Linked DNA regions of Homo sapiens: region 1 is linked to region 2. The links come from fine-mapping of genetic effects on gene expression. A gene starts in region 2. The other region holds a variant in brackets. All regions are shown on one strand. Distances are from middle to middle. Region 1 holds the start of USP4 (ubiquitin specific peptidase 4). Region 2 holds the start of AMT (aminomethyltransferase).

Region 1 (11,663 bases), 83 kb before region 2:
ATAAAATAAAATAAAACCTGTTGTTTAGCCTGGGCACAGTGACTCACACCTGTAATCCCAGCACTCTGGGACGTCAAGGCGGGAGGATTGCTTGAGCCCAGGAATTCAAGATCAACCTGAACAACATGACAAAACCCACAAAAAATCTCTGCAAAAAATACAATAATTAGTCGAGTGTGGTGGGGCCTGTAGTTCCAGTTACTCAGGAGGCTGAGATGGGAGGATCACCTGAGCCTGGGAAGGTCAAGGTTGTAGTGAGGTGTGATTGTGCTACTGCACGAGGTAGCAGTAGCTACCTTTTTTTTTTTTGAGACAAGATGGCACCTTGTCTCAAAAAAAAAAATAAATGAATAAACTTTCTCCATATCAGCAATAATAAGGCTGTTTCAGCCTCTTATAATTCATGTGTTCACTAGAGTAGCACTTTTTTTTTTTTTTTTTGAGATGGAGTCTCACTTCTGTCGCCCAAGCTGGAGTGGAGTGCAGTGGCGCAATCTCAGCTCACTGAAACCACCATTTCCTGGGTTCCTCCATCTCCCAGGCAACATGACAAAACTCCATCTCTACAAAAAGAAAAAATAAACACATACAAAAATGAGCCAGGAATGCTGGCAAGCACCTGTAGTCCTAGCTACTCAGGAGGCTGAGGTGGAAGGATCACTTAAGTCCAGGAGGTTTACATTTACATTCACAACTTGGCTAGCTATATGGCACAAGAGGCCTAGCTTACAACCTATTTCGGCTTCCTTAACCAAACTCAAATCATTTCTAGCTTTGATTTGAAGTGAGAGACATGCAATTCTCCTTTTCACTTGAACATTTAGAAGACGTTGTTAGGGTTACTAAGTGGCCGAATTTCAGTGTCATTGTGTCTCAGGCAATAGCAAAGCCTGAGGAGAGAGAGAGAGATGGAATGGCTGGTTGGTGAAGCAGCGAGAATACACACAATAATTACCAATTAAGTTCACTGTCTTACATGGGCTCCCTTCATGATGCCCCAAAACAATTACAATAGCAACATGAAAGATCCCTGTTGGCTGGGCATGGTGGCTCATGCCTGTAATCCCAGCACTTTGGGAGGCTGAGGTCGGGAGTTCAAGACCAGCCTGACCAACATGGAGAAACCCCATCTCTACTAAAAATACAAAATTAGCCGGGCGTGGTGGCACATGCCTGTAATCCTAGCTACTCGGGAGGCTGAGGCAGGAGAATCACTTGAACCCAAGAGGTGGAGGTTGCCATGAGCCACGATCATGCCACTGCACTCCTGCCTGGGCAACAAGAGCAAAACTCCGTCTCAAAAAAAAAAAGAAAGCTCCCTGATCACTGATCACCATAACAAATAATAATGAAAAACTTTGAAGTATTTTGAGAATTACCAAAATGTGGTAACAGAGACATGAAGTGAGCACATGCTGTTGTAAAAATGGAACTGACAGATTGTCAAGGCAGCGTTGCCAAATACCTACAAAATTTGCTAAAAATGCAGTATCTGCAACATATAATAAAGCAAAGCACAATAAGCCAAAGTATGCCTGAATTTAAAACCTTAAGAATTCTCCATTTCATAAAAATGAGAAAAAGAACAAAATGTGAACATAATGAAATGATTCCTTAGGGCAACTTCGTGGCATAGTGCCACCATTTGACCTATTTCAGGAAACAAAGTAAATGATATTGTTTATACCATGTAGACCTCTCCTAAAACAAGGTCTGAGCTGAAGCATTGCTCAGTTTTAAAAATATCCAAGTTAGGCCAGGCACAGTGGCTCACACCAACACTCTGGGAAGCCAAGGTGGGAGGATGGCTTGAGGCCAGGAGTTCAACCAGCCTGGGCAACATAGCAAGACCCCGTCTCTACCAAAAAACTTAAAAAACAGCTGAGAGTGGTAGAACACTGTAGTCTCAGTGACTAAGGAGGCTGAGGCAGGAAGATAGCTTGAGCCCAGGAGCTCAAGGCCAGCCTAGCCAACATGGTAGAGACGGGGTTTCACCATGTTGGCCAGGCTGGTCTCGAACTCCTGACCTCAGGTGATCCACCTGCCTTGGCCTCCCAAAGTGCTGAGATTACAGGCGTGAGACACCACTCCTGGCACTGCCCTGATTTTTGACACCCATGACAGATCACCTCTATCATGACTTTAAAGAGGTCTGAAGTCAGGCAAAAGAAAGCCTGGGAAAAGCTGACTCTGTCATCTCAGTGCATGTACAAGTGCAAGCAAGCTCTAGTGTGTTACATGTCGCTTTTCCCACAGTTCCCATTGGGAGCTGACTACAGTCATAACTCTGTCTACTGACCTTCAACCTCTCCTCACACTAGTTATATGATAAAAACAGCCATCACAGGAATTCTTGATGAAAGTTCACAGGTTTACAATTTGTTCCACTGCAAAGGTAACAAAAAATTCTGGTTCTTAAATTTTAGATACAATTTCAAAATGACATCCTATTTCTTTCCATTCCATATACTAACTTAAAATGTGAAATAGCTAGCAGAACTAATTTGCAAAGAGAGAAAGTTAAAATGTTAGAAGCATACTCTTATCAGATGCAGTTAATTTAAGGGAAAAAAGTAGCTTAACTTCTCATTAAGGGTTTGCAAAGACTTCTGCTATAGATGCAAAATGAGGATACTTGTTTCTATCTCCTCACACTAGGAAAGTTCACAACGTCCATGTTACAGATGCACATAACATCAGGCCACTGCCCAGGTGAATGTTTAGCTAGAAAAGCAACATTTACTATACCTGAAAATAGCCCAGAGTTGTCTATTGGGCCAGGAAATAGGTTATGTTCACCCACATTGTACATGTCCCAGCTGTCAAAGCCCACATACTTCTTCCACTGCTTGAACCACCGGCTGTCAATAAGATACCTAGAGAGAGACAGAAATTTACTGTAGCAGAAAAGCTGAGATTATAAATTTCTGCAGCTGCTTCCTTAATCTTTTTTATGGTCCTTCCACTTGGGGCATATGCAATACCCACTAAAAAACACTGTCACAAGAGCAAGAGCAGGGCCCAGGCCCCACATGGCACAGAGAGTCTGGCCCAGGGTATGCATCCATTAAGTGAAATGATTGTTCAAAGAGTGAATAAAAGAAAGAAAACAAGTGGTTTCAAAATGCTTATTTAAATGCAGTCTTTCTTTTTTTTTCTTTTAGACGGAGTCTTGTTCTGTCGCCCAGGCTGGAGTATAGTGACACAATCTTGGCTCACTGCAACCTCTGCCTCCCAGGTTCAAGCGATTCTCCTGCCTCAGCCTCCTGACTAACTGGGATTACAGGCACCTGTCACCACTCCCAGCTAATTTTTGTATTTTTAGTAGAGACGGGGTTTCACCATGTTGGGCAGGCTGGTCTCAAACTCCTGACCTCAGGTGATCCGCCTACTTCGGCCTCCCAAAGTGCTGGGATTACAGGCATGAGCCACTGCACCTGGCCTCTTTTTTTTTTTTTTTTTTTTTTGAGACGGAGTTTTCGCTCTTGTTGCCCAAGCTGGAGTGCAGTGGTATGATCTTGGCTCACTACAACCTCCACCTCCTGGGTTCAAGCAATTCTCCTGCCTCAGCCTCCCAAGTAGCTGGGATTACAGGCATGCATCACCAGGCCCAGCTAATTTTTTTGTATTTTTAGTAGAGATGGAGTTTCACCATGTTGGCCAGGCTGGTCTCGAACTCCTGATCTCAGGTGATCCTCCTGCCTTGGCCTCCCAAAGTGCTGTGATTACATGCATGAGCTACCACACTCAGTCTAAATGGAGTCTTTTCATGGGTAAAATCATGTTTGCTAATAAACAAGTCATTAACTTCTTTTTTTTTTGAGACAGAGTTTCGCTCTTGTTACCCAGGCTGGAGTGCAATGGTGTGATCTCGGCTCTCCGCAACCTCCGCCTCCCGGGTTCAAGTGATTCTCCTGCCTCAGTCTCCCGTAGCTGGGATTACAGGTGTGTGCCACCACACCTGGCTAATTTTGTATTTTTAGTAGAGACAGGGTTTCTCCATGTTGGTCAGGACAGTCTCAAACTCCCTACCTCAGGTAATCTGCCCACCTCGGCCTCCCAAAGTGCTGTGATTACAGGCGTGAGCCACCGCACCCGGCCACAAGTCATTAATTTCATAATGATCTTTACAGAAGTCCCACTCCAGGCAGACAGTTTGGTTACACTGTTTTGCTTGACATGAACAGCACTAAACTAATGCTCTTTCTGAAAATGGGTTAGAAACACCACCCACTTCAGTTTTCCTTTAAGGACCAAAGGAGTTCCAAAAATGTACACACAAGGCCAGGCGCAGTGGCTCACACCTGTAATCCCAGCACTTTGAGAGGCCGAGGTGGATGGTCACTTGAGCTCAGGAGTTCAAGACCAGCCTGGGCAACAAACCCCATCTCTACTAAAATTACAAAAATTAGCTGAGCGTGGTGGCACATGCCTGTAGTCCCAGCTGCTCGGGAGGCTGAGGCACAAGAATCACTTGCACCCGGAAGACAGAAGTTGCAGTGAGCTGAGATCATGCCATTGCACTCTAGCCTGGGTGACAGGAATAAAACCCTGTCAAAAAAAAAAAAGTACATAACATGCGTGTACATATATAAATATACACATACACATGTACATATAATAGTGCCTATTGTTCATCTTGTCAAAAAGCATTAATTTGTGCTTCATATTCAACTTACCACTTTTTTACTTAAATGTAAGCAAATGTGGTATTTTATTTACCTATTTATTTCCTTAGAGAGAGGGTCACCCAGGCTAGAGTGCAGTGGCACAATCATAGCTCTCTGTAGCCTCAAACTCCTGGGCTCAAGTGATCCTCCTGCCTCAGCCTCTGAGTAGCTGTGACTATAGGCACATACCACCATGCCTGGCTAATTTATTTTTTTATTTTTATTTTGTAGAGGCTAGCTCTTGCTATGTTGCCCAGGCTGGTCTTGAACTCCTGGCCTCAAGTGATCCTCCTGCCTCAGCTTCCCAAAGTGCTGGGATTACAGGCATGAGCCACTGCACCAGACCTGTTTATATTTTTAAAGTATCACTGTGCTGGCCGGGAGCGGTGGCTCACGCCTGTAATCCCAGCACTTTGGGAGGCTGAGTCAGGTGGATCACGAGGTCAGGAGATCGAGACCATCCTGGCCAACATGGTGAAACCCTGTCTCTACTAAAAATACAAACATTAGCGGGGCATGGTGGTGCATGCCTATAATCCCAGCTACTCGGGAGGCTGAAGCAGGAGAATCGCTTGAACCCGGGAGGCAGAGATTGCAGTGAGCCGAGATCGCGCCACTGCACTCCAGCCTGGTGATGCAGCGAGACTTCGTCTCAAAAAAAAAAAAAAAAAAAAAAAAAAAAAGTATCTCTATGCTGTTTTACAATTAAAACAATCTCTGTGGAGCAACAAAGCATCAACAATTATATTGGTGCATCCTTAAAATTTTATAACCAACAAATGTGAGAGGAGGTCAGGCAGCTTCCCAGAGGTCACAAGGATCCATAAACACATCCATCTCTAAAATGCTATTTTTCTTCCAAATCCCTTGAGCAATACCTTCCATACAATTTTACTGTATGATTTTAGTCTATCTTAAACTTCCTCTACTTCTGCTGAGTATTCTTTATGAACCCTATAGAGGTTAACTTAAAAAGTACCTCTGCTAGGCCGGGCGCAGTAGCTTCCGCCTGTAATCCCAGCACTTTGGGAGGCCACAGCGGGCGATCACCTGAGATCTGGAATTCGAGACCAGCCTGACCAAAATGGAGAAACCCCGTCTCTACTAAAAATACAAAAAAAATTAGCCGGCCGTGGTGGCGCATGCCTGTAATCCTAGCTACTGGGGAGGCTGAGGCAGGAGAATCGCTTGAACATGGGAGGGGGAGGTTGCCGTGACCCGAGATCGCGCCATTGCCCTCCAGCATGGGCAACAAGAGCGAAATTCCTTCTCAAAAAAAAAAAAAAAAAGAAAAGAAAAGAAAAGAAAACACAAAAAAAGTACCTCTGTTTACCCTGCCTTTCACAAACTGGTTAGCTCAAGGTGAATACATAAGCTGTTATCTGTACTCCTCCTAACCCCAATTTTTCTATTCTCCTGCTCAATTCCTCGGCAGATCATCACCACAATGATTTCTTAAAGATAGGTAACACTCGGGCCGAGCACGGTGGCTCCCACCTGTAATCCCAGCACTTTGGGAGGCCGAGGCGGGTGGATCATAAGGTCAAGAGTTTGAGACCAGCCTACCCAACATGGTGAAACCCGGTCTCTACTAAAAATACAAAAAATTAGCTGGGTGTGGTGGCGTGAGCCTGTAATCCCAGCTACTCGGGAGGCTGAGGCAGGAGAATCGCTTGAACCCGGGAGGCGGAGGTTGCCGTGAGCCAAGATCACGCCACTGCACTCCAGCTTGGGCAACAAGAGTGAAACTCCATCTCAAAACAAAACAAAACAAACAAGATGGGTAACAATCATACTCGATGCAAAGTCTAGCCTTAGTTTTTCTACTCCTACACAATTACACCACCCAGGAATCTCTCCAGTAGTACAAAGTATTGTCCCCTCTACTAAACAATCTATTAAGATGCCTAATAACTCAGCCTGGGTCTTCTAAATTCTGGACCCTTCATCTTCTATCTAGCTCCAGGACCTAGGCTATCCTCCTCTCCCACTCCAAGACACTGCTGCCGCAAATATTTTTGACACTTGCTACCAAAATAATCGGGGTTCTCAGACATTTGTTCAGCTTCTGACCTTGACATCTGTTGGCAGTTTACAAGTTACAAAGTATCTACTTCTGATTTTCCCCTCAACCCACTGAGGTCGGTGAGCCAAATATTGCTATCCTGGTTTTAACAGTGAGGAATCCAGGTCTGTGACACCTTCGCCCAAGGTCACACGGCGAGTCCTCATGGTAAAGGGCTCTCCCCACCCTTAGGGTCCCCACCAACCTTCCCCTTCTCCACATCCCTCCTCCTGGCCCCCGCCGGGCCCGCCCCCTAGGGCTCCAAATGAACTGAGACGACACTCAGGCCCCGCCTGCGCTTTCCCAGAGCTGATCCTGGAGTTATTCTCCTGAGGGGCAGGTGTCAGGCTACTCTTCCAGGGTCACTACATACCATCCCCGCCCAGCCCCTACTCTAGCCGAGAAAAAGGAGGCCCCTTTTTCTCGGCCCCTGGTTCTGCATAGAGGAAGAGCGAGCCGGGAGCTCACCACTGCGCCCCGCGTTGGAGTGTGGTCCTCATTAAGGGTCCAAGCTCGGACTTCTGAGTCTCCGCATCCGGTCGCTCACGGCAGCCTCCACCTTCCGCCATCTCCTCCGCG[G/C]CCCCGGCCCAGCCGGCCCGGACATCCGCCCCGCGCGCGGCGTGCTATAGACCGCGCCCACGCACGCACGCTCGCGTGCCCGCCCCTGCCCCACCTCGAGCCGCGGCCTTCGGCTCCTGCAGCCGCTGTCTTTTCTCCCCTCCGCTCTCGCGCCACCTAGCTCACCGGCGAACAGTGGAGCGGAAAGGCACACGCGAGAGGGGTGGGCGGGGAGCAGCAGCTGCTACTTCCTCCCGCCCTGCCGCCCGCTACGCGGCCTTCGGGCGCCCCTTCCTCTGCTCAGGATGGCGCTACACTTCGAAGCTCTGTTCAGCCCGCCGATCTCAGGGAGTTAGGCAGCAAGCCCACGACCCATCGGGCACCCCAGCCTGGCCTTCGAGGTTATCGTGGTCCTAAATAAATGCAGGCCAGGTGCGAGAAGCCCGGTAGTTAGGTCTGCTCATTCTCACCCCTGCAATTCCGCTTTCAGCTGGAGGCCTTAGGCGAGTCAGCTGCCCAAACGTGGGATCGGGGCTCCTGCTCCAGCGGCCCTACAGGGATTTCGGGAAGTACCATGTGCACCAGCGCCTTGGGACCAAGACTCAATGGTGTGTTGTAGTCATTAACAGTCGCCTTAAACAGTCGACGCCAGAGCCACCTGGCCCACCGCAGAATTCCGTCAGCTCTTCATACTGAGCTACTTGCCAAGCAGCCACAGAGGGGCGATAGCAACAGGGGAAGGAGAGGTACTCCACATTAGTTACCCAGGCGTGTACTTAGTTCCTGGAACAAGATACAACGTCCTGAACACTATGTTTTCCAGTCGCCCCGCTCACACACACAACCCTCCTCTTGGAGGGAGAAGTAAACCCAGAGGAAAGAGGAAGTCAGGCAGTTGGTCTAGATGCGTCTCCATACACTTGTCTAACAGTCCTTGTCCTCAGAGAAAAATAAGACCTAGTTCCTGCCCTCATAGAATCTAGTAGAAAAGAAGAGATGTTACAGAAATAACCTCAATGCCTAGCAGTATGTGGTAAGTGCCATTAAAGTGTGTGAACCAGGCCGGGCGCGGTGGTTCAAGCCTGTCGTCCCAGCACTTTGGGAGGCTGAGGCGGAAGGATAGGTTCAGCCCAGGAGTTAGAGACCAACCTCGGCAACATAGCGAAATCCCGTCTCTACAAAAAAATACAAAAAATAGCCGGGCAGTGGCTCGCGTCTGTGGTCCCAGGTACTTGGGAGGCTGAGGTAGGAAGATCCCTTGAGCCCAGGAGGTCGAGGTTGCAGTGAGTCGAGATGGCGCCACTGCACTTGAGACTGGACGGCAAAGTGAGACCCTGTCTCAAAAAAAAAAAAATAAATACAAATAAAGGGTGTGAACCGGCCGGGCGCGGTGGCTCACACCTGTAATCCCAGCACTTTGGGAGGCCGAGGCAGGAGGATCACCTGAGGTCGGGCATTCGAGACCAGCCTGACCAACGTGGAGACCGAAATGTCTTAAAAAAAAAAAAAAAAAAAGACCGGGCGTCCGGCGCGGTGGTTCATGTTTGTAATCCTAGGACTTTGGGAGGCCGAGGCGGGCAGATCACGAGGTTAGGAGTTCGAGACCAGCGTGGCTAATATGGTGAAACCCCTTCTCTACTAAAAATACAAAAAAAAAAAAAAAAATTAGCCGTTAGTGGTGGCCCACACCTAGTCTCAGCTACTCGGGAGGCTAAGGCAGAAGAATCGCTTGAACCTGGGAGGCAGAGGTTGCAGTGAGCCGAGATTGCGCCACTGCACTCCAGCCTGGGCAACAGAGCAAGACCCCCTCTAAAAAAAAAAGGGGGTGTGAACCAAAGGCTGTAGAACGCCAGGCACAACCCCTGCTCTCATAGGAAGCCTTTGACTTGAGTAACATTTGAGTGTGGTATTGAAAAAAAATGCTGGCAGAATAAAGATGAGGATGCATGTTACAGGAGGGGAGACTCAAGGGACCAGAAGATAATTTCTGGAAAAGGCAGGACAGGATCAGAGAGTGGGGATTAGGCCAGTTGAGGCGGGCACTACAACGCTACAACAGCCTAAGGGGATCTAAAGCTAGAAAGGAGGCCAGACAGACCATATATCCTGCCTTAAAAGGCAGGCAGGCATTATAGGAAGTTTTGAAGCAGAGACAAAATGGCTGAGGGTGCTTCACGCCCACGGTGGTGTAACTCAGACACAGAACCATTAGGAACCTCTCACTATGGAGGTGGCTGTGAGGGAGAAGAGGAGAAACAGAGAAGCCATGTCTATTTTATTTTATTATTCTTATTTTTCTACCTATTCCTGTTGAAAAGATGAGCTATGTTTTGTGTCGGGGGTGAAGGAAGGGGAACTGGCCCAGTGAAAATACGGTAGGTCATTTGAACAGATTTACTATTTTTATGTTGGGTTTGGCCAATTGAAATTAATTTGCACTCCCTGGGTCATCCATCACACACCATCTGATAAGAAAGGCCTCTTGGCAATTGGGTAGATAGTAGGAGAAAGTAAATATGGAATTAAAACTGCCTTAAATAACCACATAGTAATTAATCCCCTGTAGATAAGAGTTACCACCACCACATGATGATTCTACATCTGCAGAGCCAACCCTAACAAGTCCCCTTCTATGAAAGTTCTTTGAAACTCGTTTTTGTTTTGTTTTGTTTTGTTGTTTTTTCTGAGATGGAGTCTTGCTGGGTCCCCCAGGCTGGAGTGCAGTGGGGCAATCTCAGCTCACTGCAACCTCTGCCTCCCTGGATCAAGCGATTCTCCTGCCTCAGCCTCCTGAGTAGCTAGAATTACAGGTGTGCGCCACCACGCCTGGCTAATTTTTGTATTTTTAGTAGAGATGGGGTTTCACCATGTTGGGCAGGCTGGTCTCAAACTCCTGACCTCATGATCCACTGGCCTCAGCCTCCCAAAGTGCTGGGATTAAAGGTGTGAGGCACCGTGCCCGGCTGAAACTCTTAAAAATGTTATCAAAAAAGAAACACTACCTTTAGTCCTGTTATTTATGGAAAAAGAAAGTTGAGGCCAGGCGTGGTGGCTCACGCCTGTAATCCCAGCACTTTGGCTTTGGAAAGCCAAGGCAGGCGGATCGCCTGAGGTCAGGAGTTCGAGACCAGCCTGGCCAATGTGGTGAAACCCTGTCTCTACTAAAAATGCAAAAATTAATTGGGCATGGTGGCGAGCACCTGTAATCCCAGCTACTCAGGAGGCTAAGGTAGGAGAATCACTTGAAACTGGGAGATGGAGGTAGCAGTGAGTCAAGATCGCACTACTGCACTCCAGGCTGGGTGACAGAGAGAGACTCTGTCTCAAAAAAAAAAAAAAGTTGGTTACTGACATCGGTTCAGAATCTACATTTCAGGGTGTCTGCTTCCCTCTTCTTTTTTTAGCAGTTTCACCAAACCATTTATGGCAGTCTTAAGGAAGACAAGTAGGACAAGTCCTCAGCACCACTAGAAAAGGGGACAAAACCTAATTATAAAAATGAAAAATTTGGACAATATTTTTAAGTCAGGAATTTAGTGCTTTTAATAGCTATAAAAATAGCGCACTAATTATTGGTAGCCCTTAAAAATTAATATTAGGATTGCAAAATATTCTTCTTGATATCTGGGTATTTGGAGGGAAAAAAAGAAAAATAAATAAATAAAAGATTACAAAATGCTGGTAGTTGAAATGTGAAGAATAAAGTGAATTCCATAGTTGGAAGATCACCTTTTTTTTTTTTTTTTTTTTTTTTGAGACAGAGTCTTTGTTGCCCAGGCTAAAGTGCAGTGGTATAATCATGGCTCACTTGCAGCCTCGACCTATTGGGCTCAAGTGATCCTCCTACCTCAGCCTCCCAAATAGCTGGGACTACTGGTCTGCATCACCATGCCTAGCTAACCAGACTACTGGTCTGCATCACCATACCTAGCTAATTTTCATATTTTTAGTATAGATGGAGTTTCACCATGTTGCCCAGGCTGGTCTTGAACTCCTGGCCTCAAGTGATCCTCCGCCTCCCAAGTGCTGGGATTGCAGTCATGCGCCACCGTGCCCGGACTACAAGGTCACCATTATTTACAAAGTCTTTAAACTTTGTTAGCCAGTTTGTTTGATTTAAATGGTGGGGGTGGCCGGGCGCAGTGGCTCATGCCTGTAATCCCAGCACTTTAGGAGGCCAAGGCAGTCGGATCAGGAGGTCAGGAGTTCGAGACCAGCCTGACCAACATGGCGAAACCCCATCTCTACTAAAAATACAAAAATTATCTGGGCGTGGTGGCATGGGCCTGTAATCCCAGCTACTCAGAAGGCTGAGGCAGGAAAATCGCTGGAACCTGGGAGGCAGAGGTTGTGGTGAGCCAGGATCGTGC
Region 2 (8,000 bases):
CACCTCTACCAGCAGCATTGTCCCTGGACGACTGTACTCGCAGGGCACATAACCCATCGCCACATTCTTCTTCAGAGAGGGGGAGGGGCAGCCACTAGTCACAGTACCTGTCAAGCAAGCATAAGCCACGCATCAGCACCACCCTGCCAGTGCCCCCACCCTCCTGGGAAGAGACAAGGGTTTCCCAGCTTCCCTGGTCCACCTACCAATCTTGGTACCCTCCATGTTCAGGATGGGACTGTGTGCCCGCATGGGGGCCCCCTCACACATCAACCCCACACGCCTCCGCTGCACCCTGCCCTTCAGCTGGGGAACAATGACCTTGGCTCCAGGGAAGTCCATAGCAGCTCGGCGGCGCTTCCCTGGAGAATGACACATGAGACATAAGCCACAGCCCATAGAAGCCCTGGCCACAGGAGGTCCTTATGAGGTCCTCAAGTAACACACTATCTAGCATCAAGGCCCCTTTGCTTGGGCTACTCCAGGCTCTATTCCTCCCTTCACTGCCGTCAGCCAACCAACCACCTCCTATCCCCTGGAGGCCATGCTGCCCACCTGCCGAGCGTCTTCAGTTTCTTTTTTTTTTTTTTGAGATGGAGTCACTCTGTCGCCCAGGCCTAGAATGCAGTGGCACGATCTCAGCTCACTGCAAACTCTGCCTCCCAGGTTCAAGCAATTTACCTGCCTCAGTCTCCCGAGTAGCTGGGATAACAGGCACCCGCCACCACGCCTGGCTAATTTTTATATTTTCAGTAGAGACGGGGTCTCACCATGTTGGCCAGGCTATTCTCGAATTCCTGACCTCATGATCCACCCACCTTGGCCTCCCAAAGTGCTGGGATTACAGGTGTGAGCCACCATGCCCGGCAGCATCTTCAGTTTCTTTTTTTTTTTTTTTTTTTTTTTTGAGACGGGGTCTCGCTCTATCGCCCTGGCTGGAGGTGCAGTGGCGCAATCTCGGCTCACTGCAAACTCCGCCGCCCAGGTTCATGCCATTCTCCTGCCTCAGCCTCCCGAGTAGCTGGGACTACAGGCGCCCGCCACAATGCCCAGCTAATTTTTTTTTTGTATTTTTAGTAGAGACGGGGTTTCACCATGTTAGCCAGGATGGTCTTGATCTCCTGACCTCGTGATCCACCCGCCTCGGCCTCCCAAAGTGCTGGGATTACAGATGTGAGCCACCGCATCCGGCCAACATCTGCAGTTTCTAATGGGCAAAGGCACAGTGGCACCTTCAGGGAAGGGAGGCTCAGGAAGGCTTCAGGCTACATAACCTTTGGATGAGTCATGGGCTGGCTAGTCTTATCAAGGGTCACCCTGACCTCCAGGACCCTATCCTTTAGTGCTGGCCCAGCTCACCCAGTGTCCAACTGAGGCTGCCCTCCACAGGTGTAGTGTGTTCATCAATGTCATTCCCATACAGGCAGAGGCCTGCCTCCAGGCGCAGGCTGTCCCTGGCTGCCAGCCCTGCCAGCTTCACCTCTGGGTTTTTCAGAATAGCTGTTGCCAGGTGAACTGCCCCCGCTACCGGCACCGAGATCTGTATGAAACACCAGAGGGCAGATGGGAAGCTCCCTGTACCACATACCCCCAACCCCTCACATGCATCCTGTGCCCTGTACTGCCCCCACACCACTTCTTGACACACCTCCACACCATCCTCTCCTGTGTAGCCACAGCGGGTCACGCGGCAGCCAGACACGCCAAACACCTCCATCACAGCACTGGTCATGAAGGGCAGTTTCCTCAGGTCATCTGCCACGCCGGCCTGTAGTACCTGGGCTGCAGTGGGGCCTGGGCCCAGGGAGCCAGTGACCAAGTATCCAGGTCCCAGCATCCCTCAAAGCTGGACTAAAGCCTTATTCAGGGACCAGAACAAGCCCTGAGCATGTCTTACTCTGCAAGTGGGAGAAGATGCCCTTGTCCCTAGCCCATGGAGCCTTGTGGTAGGTAGGAGGAGGGCAAGATACAAAACTTAAAATTATGGCACACAAATATCACACCTTCCACACATTCTTCTTGGTATGGCCTCTGTGCTAAGCAGTCAATGAAGCCAGGAAGGCAAAGGTTGGCTCCAACCCCAGCCCAGCCCTCTCACCTTGCAGAGCTAGCAGGGCATTATCCAACACCTCCAGGCCCACATCTCTGCCCTGGTTCTGAAGCTCCCTGACCTTGTCCTAAAAGACAGAAACACAAGAGCATCTGGGGCCACTTACTGAGCAGCTACCATGGGCTGGACGCTGCAGAGCTGGACAGTAGTAGGACAGTGGAGAGGAGGAGGAGGAGGGAGGAAAAAAAAAGGTAGTAGGCTGGTTCCCATCTTACAAGGTCACATAGCTACTAAGTGATAGAGATGACCCAAGCCCAGTTCTGCCACCTCACACCAGAGGGGCCAAGACCCCCTCCCCATGCCTGGTAATCCCCCACCACCAAACCCTGGCGTGCTCCAGAGAGGGCCTGCTCTTGAGTCTCATAGCTGTTCATTCACTGAAAGAGCCATTTTCCAGGTCCCTTGTCTGTGCCAACCCTGTCTTGGACAACAAGGATACTGCTCTATGAACAAGGAAGACAAGGTGTCTAGAACACAGAGGGGGTATACCTGCATGAGGGCCAAATCTTTCTCCCAGCAGCCAGCGTTGGACACCACATACAGGTGGCCCTCAGAAGTATTGGTTACAATCAAGTCATCTAAGATGCCTCCAGCCTCGTTGGTAAACAGCGACAGTGTCCCCTAGGACCAAAGTGGAGCGTTTTGGCTTCCAGGTCCAGGAGGGCAAGGCCAAGGGTGAGCCAGACACAACCCTGGACCCACTTAGTTACCAAAAGGTTATGAACCCTAATGTGAAGGACTCAGGGTGTGCAAGGTACAAGTCTGGGCCCAAGTCCAAGGTCTTTGATCCTCATGCATCAAGTAAGTTTTCATCCCCTCCCTACCTTGGGGTGCTTCCCTGATCTGGTGCAACCTCTGCACCCCTCCCCACTCTGTACTGAGAGTCCCATCTGACACTTAATCTATGACACCTAGGACCTGCTGCTTCACCTACCCAAACCTGGGACGACTTAGCCCATGTGGCAACCCACAGGACAAAAGCTTCAAAGGTCATCTTGATGATCGCAGGCTCTCCTAAGTACTCCATAGCAATGCCCCCAAAAAACTTCCTTAGCCTCCCCACTGGATGGACAAAAAGCCTGAGGTTGAGGGGGTCACATGAATCACCTGGGGATCTTGTTAAAATGAAGGTTCTGATTCAGCAGGTCTGCAGCAGTGCCTGAGACTATATTCCTAACAAGCTCCAAAGATGCTGGTTTAGAGACCACACTTTGTTGTTGTTATTTTTCTTTTTAGACTGAGTCTCACTCTGTTGCCCAGGCCAGAGTGCAGTGGTGCAACCTCAGCTTGCTGCAACCTCAGCCTCCCGAGTAGCTGGGACTACAAGCACGCGCCACCACGCCCGGCTAATTTTTGTGTTTTTAGTAGAAACGAGGTTTTGCCATGTTGGCCAGGCTGGTCTCGAACTCCTGACCTCAGGTGATCCACCCGCCTTGGCCTCCCCAAGTGCCAGGATTACAGGTGTTTGAGTCACGTCGCCTGGCCAGGGACCACATGTTGAATAGAGAGGGGTTAAGCAGAAGGGATGGCCAGAGAGCAGCATATTAACCTTGGTTTCTGGCCTCCTAGCCTGATGTAGTAAGACTGGGATATTCCCCTCCCTACAAATGTCTGTGTCTCTGGAAATGACTCAGGGATTCTGTCCAAGACTGCAAGCCCTGAGAAGCTGTGTTTGACTCATCTCTGTGCCCCTAAGCCTGAGGTAGGGACTCAGCCCATTTGCTGGCTCATGACTAAGAAAACTCATAGAGCAGAAATAAAAGGGCCCACCTGGTTTGGTCTTAGCTCTGCAATGTCTCCAACCACTAGACTCTCCATCAGCTTCACCCGGTCACTACCAAGTATCTTGGTCTGGGGAAGAGATTGAAAGCCTCAGGCCATTGCAACAGCTACAATCCAAAAGGCTACTAAGCAAGGATGCATCCTCCCTGCCATCCACAGTGCAGTCCAGCCCACCCAAAGTGACTAACCAGTCTTTTGGTTCTACACGTGGCAAAGGACCACCTTCTGATTTCCTGACCTCCCCCAGTCACTCTGTGTGGGGGGACTGCCAGGGAACTGGACAGGACCTAGCACCTTCCTGAAATAACCCCTTTTCAAACCAACATCCAGCCCAATACATGAGAGTGGGTGTCAGCCCTGGAAAACCCGGGACATTAAGGCACACCATTTAATGGGGGCAAGCTAGAAGGATGAGATGATGAGACCCTCTGAGCTCATTTCCTTGGGGCCATTGACCTATCCATGACACCCCCATGACCTCTAGCTCTTCTGAGAAGGCTGTCCTTGGAATCCAGTTCACAGCAAACAAAGCCAAGGAGTGGACCACTGTAAACAGGGAGGAAGGCCTGATCAGATGGCCAGTGTGCTCCCCTGGCTCACCTGCAGCATATGAGACACGTCAAAGAGCGAGCAGTGCTGGCGTGTGTGCAGGTGCGAGTCAGTGTGACTGTCCCGGTACTGCACTGGCAGACTCCAACCCGCAAACGCCACCATTTTCCCGCCGTGGGCCAGGTGGAAGTCATAGAGCGGTGTCCTGCGGAGCACCTCCTGTGGGCGGCTGGGCTTAGTGCCACCAGGGCCCTAGCCCCCAGCCGCTTCCCTCCCCCACCCTCCAAGATCAGCACCCTCTATCCCACCTGTGCGCAACTAAGTGGACGACACAAGGCCGGGGGGAATGCCTGCAGGCGAAAGCCCAGACGGGCCACCACACTTACAGCCCTCTGCATCGTCGCCTGCAACGAGTGCAGACGGCGCACAGAGGCCACCACACTGCCAGGCACGCCGGGAGATGTAGTCCAGGCCTCTGCTCGGACAGGTCTCTCTCCGGAGCAAAGGATCTGAAGGGGGCGTGGGCAGCCCCAAGGGCAGGCTGGGATTTAGAGCAGAGAATGCAGGAACCCGCAACCACAGGGAAGAAGCCTCCAGCTCTTTCGGCTGACTCTTCAGGGCAGCTCGGGCAATCCAGAGCTGATTGGGCTGCCCAGAACAAAGCTAGGGGCTAGACCGCCCCCTGCAGAACCGCCCTGTCTCCAGAGGGTCAAAGTTCTGGAAAGGGCTGAAAGGTCTGAATCATACCTTTAGGACCTCAAGAGAGTAAGGTCAAGTGGGGGTGGGGAAGGTGGGCCAGCCTGGCAGGTAGGCAGCACCACAGTAGTCTGTCCTCATGTGGACCCCTAGTTCCACAGCTCTCCCACCAGGCAGACACAGGCAGCCAGCAGTCATGCATTCCACAAGTATTTATTGATCTTACTGCATACCAGGCCCTCAGATGGGGACACAGCCACGAATGAAGCATGGTCCCTGCTACCACAAGGTCCTCTTCACTTACACACACACTGAGGACTACTGCTTCGTCACGCTTTCCGAAGCAGCTGAGTGGGGCTATGTAAGTGACCTTGCAGATGAAGTCGCCACCTGCAAGAACTCACAGGTGAGAACAGAGGGTGGCCACCAAAAGGTCACTGAACTCCCCCGAGAAAACTGTTGAGCCACACACATGTCCAACTTTCCAGGTCCAAGACATACTGCAGTACTGCTTTGTAATAGCCACCAGGTGCAAAGCCAGGAAGAACCAGAGGGAAACAGGTTTTTCTCACATGAGGGAAGAGCAGCCTGCATCACTTAATGGTTGGACTGAGTTAATGCAGGACTTAGGCCTCTTAAAAGGCAACAATGAGAACCCTTACTTGGACCCACTCCCCACCACGGTTGATCTCTCATTATGCTGAGCATATCTCTTGGAAAGGGGCAGGGCGGGCGCGGTGGCTCATGCCTGTAATCCCAGCACTTTGGAAGGCCAAGGCAGGCAGATCACCTGAGGTCAGGTGTTTGAGACCAGCCTGACCAACATGGAGAAACCCCATCTCTACTACAAATACAAAATTAGCCAGGCATGGTGATGCATGACTGTAATCCCAGCTACTCGGGAGACTGAGGCAGGAGAATTGCTTGAACCTGGGAGGCGGAGGTTGCAGTTAGCCAAGATTGCACTATTGCACTCCAGCCTGGGCAACAAGAGCAAAACTCAACCTCAAAAAAAACAACAAAAAAGGAGAGGGGCAACTGGGAGAAAGGATAGAGATGTGCTTTGGGCTATGTCAGATGGCAGAAGGGTCCCAGTTCTTTTTTTTTTGTTTGTTTGTTTAAGATGGAGTTTCGCTCTTCTTGCCCAGGCTGGAGTGCAATGGCATGATCTCAGGTCCGCAACCTCCACTTCCCGGGTTCAAGAGATTCTCCTGCCTCAGCCTCCCAAGTAGCTGGGATTACAGGTGCCTACCACCACGCCCAGCTAATTTTTTGTATTTTTAGTAGAGACGGGGTTTCTCCAGGTTGGTCAGGCTGGTCTTGAACTCCTGACCTCAGGTGATCCGCCTGCCTGGGCCTCCCAAAGTGCTGGGATTACAGGCGTGAGCCACTGCACCCTGCCTAGAAGGGTCCCAGTTCTTATGCTCAGGCCCTGGTTTTGCTAGAGACACGTGCCCAGGCCCTATGGGCACACCCACTTGAACATATATTCAGGAGCCAGCTCAGAAACCAAGAGACTCAGGCTGCCCAAATCTTCAGGTTTCCTTCCTAGGCAGGCAGCAGAAGAGTTCAGACAGGAAATTTCTCTCTGTGGCATAACACAAATGGAAAGAAAACCACTAGGGGACACACAGGAAGAAATAAGGTTTCTGTTTCTTCCTCAAGTGTCCCAAGTGCCATGGCAGCAATGGCCTTCCAGGTCCATACATGGAGCAGGTTTTAGTAGGTCAGCCCAGCCCAACTGCACTGACATGAGGGAGCAGGCAGAAGACAGGAATGTGCATGTTGCCAGAAGGGGCAGAGGGCACTCAGGGATTCTCAGTAAGTACAACTGACTGGAGTGTTTTTGGGTAGAAGGAAGAATTGAGTTGCAGCCAGGCGAAGACAGAGCACCCCCATGCCAGGAGCTCATGCTGAAGTAACACGGTAAGCCCCTGAGAATCCTGAATCTGTGAATGTGGCCCAGACAGAACAGGCATGCAGGCAACACTTGGAATGCACAGGAAATACACTTCAGCCTCTGGTGGCCCAAACCAAGTCTGGGTGGGCACAGAAAGGCCAACATCTTGGCTAGGAGCAACCATTCAAGTGTAGGAGAGCAAGTTCAGGTCATAACAGCCATCCACCTGAAATACAAAAGACCATCAGGTCTGATCTGCTCAGGGCAAAGCAAGCCAAGCAGAAGGAAGCGATTACTTACATCAAAGCGGCCGATCCTTGCGGAGGTGTGACTGGCCCGGATCATCTCTGTCAGTGCCCACATCTGCTGCACCTCGGAGGATACCCTGCTGGGGTCTGGGAGACCCTGCTCCAGAAGGAGGGGTCAGTGGCCATGGGTCTCTCCCCAGCAGTGCCCTTCAGGCTCCAGAGAGGCCAACCTGGGCTAGGGGCCCTCCAGCTGAGACCAACAACATTCTCAGATGGCTTATGAAACATGAGGTTAGGGCCTGATGTAGCCCCACAACAGAGATGCCTCAAATCCCACAGAATACCCAGGAGGAAGATAACACCCAAGGGCCCTGGGCCCAGCCCCAGAATTTTACAGGAAGGGGTCTACCTGGCCTGTGTTGGACACTAGAGCCATTCACACATGGTTCTTACCTAGGGTGAGGGCTTACCTCACGGAGGAGTGCAGGTTGCTCACAGGGCACTGGGTGGGAGAGCCACTTGGGAAAGGTCACGGAGGGGCTCTGCAAAGCAAAGATGTACTGCCCTGAGTGAGACAAAGTGGACAGCTCTGGGACCAGATTCCAAGGTCCTAGGAGCAGAGAGAAGGGCCGCTGGGCCTCAGACACTGGGAAAACCCTGTTTAGGGAGCCCACAGAGACCTAAAGAGGCAGTCAGACTACCTAAGTTCTCCTGC

The links.
Region 1: its variant is fine-mapped to the expression of AMT in whole blood (TOPMed, PIP 0.95).

Annotation. Positions count from the first base shown.
Region 1 is chr3:49,332,721-49,344,383 of GRCh38, forward strand. It overlaps USP4 (ubiquitin specific peptidase 4), which reads right to left and starts at 7,333. Exons shown (of 22, transcript NM_003363.4): 1 at 7,204-7,333; 2 at 2,749-2,876. The coding sequence starts at 7,304. RefSeq lists a silencer at 7,274-7,463 and enhancers at 7,504-8,003, 7,634-7,803, 7,894-7,953. The variant G/C (reference allele first, on the strand shown) is at 7,315.
Region 2 is chr3:49,417,612-49,425,611 of GRCh38, forward strand. AMT (aminomethyltransferase) reads right to left here and starts at 4,862. Exons shown (of 9, transcript NM_000481.4): 1 at 4,750-4,862; 2 at 4,493-4,660; 3 at 3,881-3,961; 4 at 2,600-2,731; 5 at 2,099-2,177; 6 at 1,649-1,794; 7 at 1,360-1,540; 8 at 207-362; 9 at 1-107. The coding sequence starts at 4,839. It overlaps NICN1 (nicolin 1, tubulin polyglutamylase complex subunit), which reads right to left. Exons shown (of 6, transcript NM_032316.3): 4 at 7,756-7,827; 5 at 7,338-7,442; 6 at 4,722-7,263. The coding sequence ends at 7,222. RefSeq lists enhancers at 47-765, 3,737-4,489, 4,490-5,243.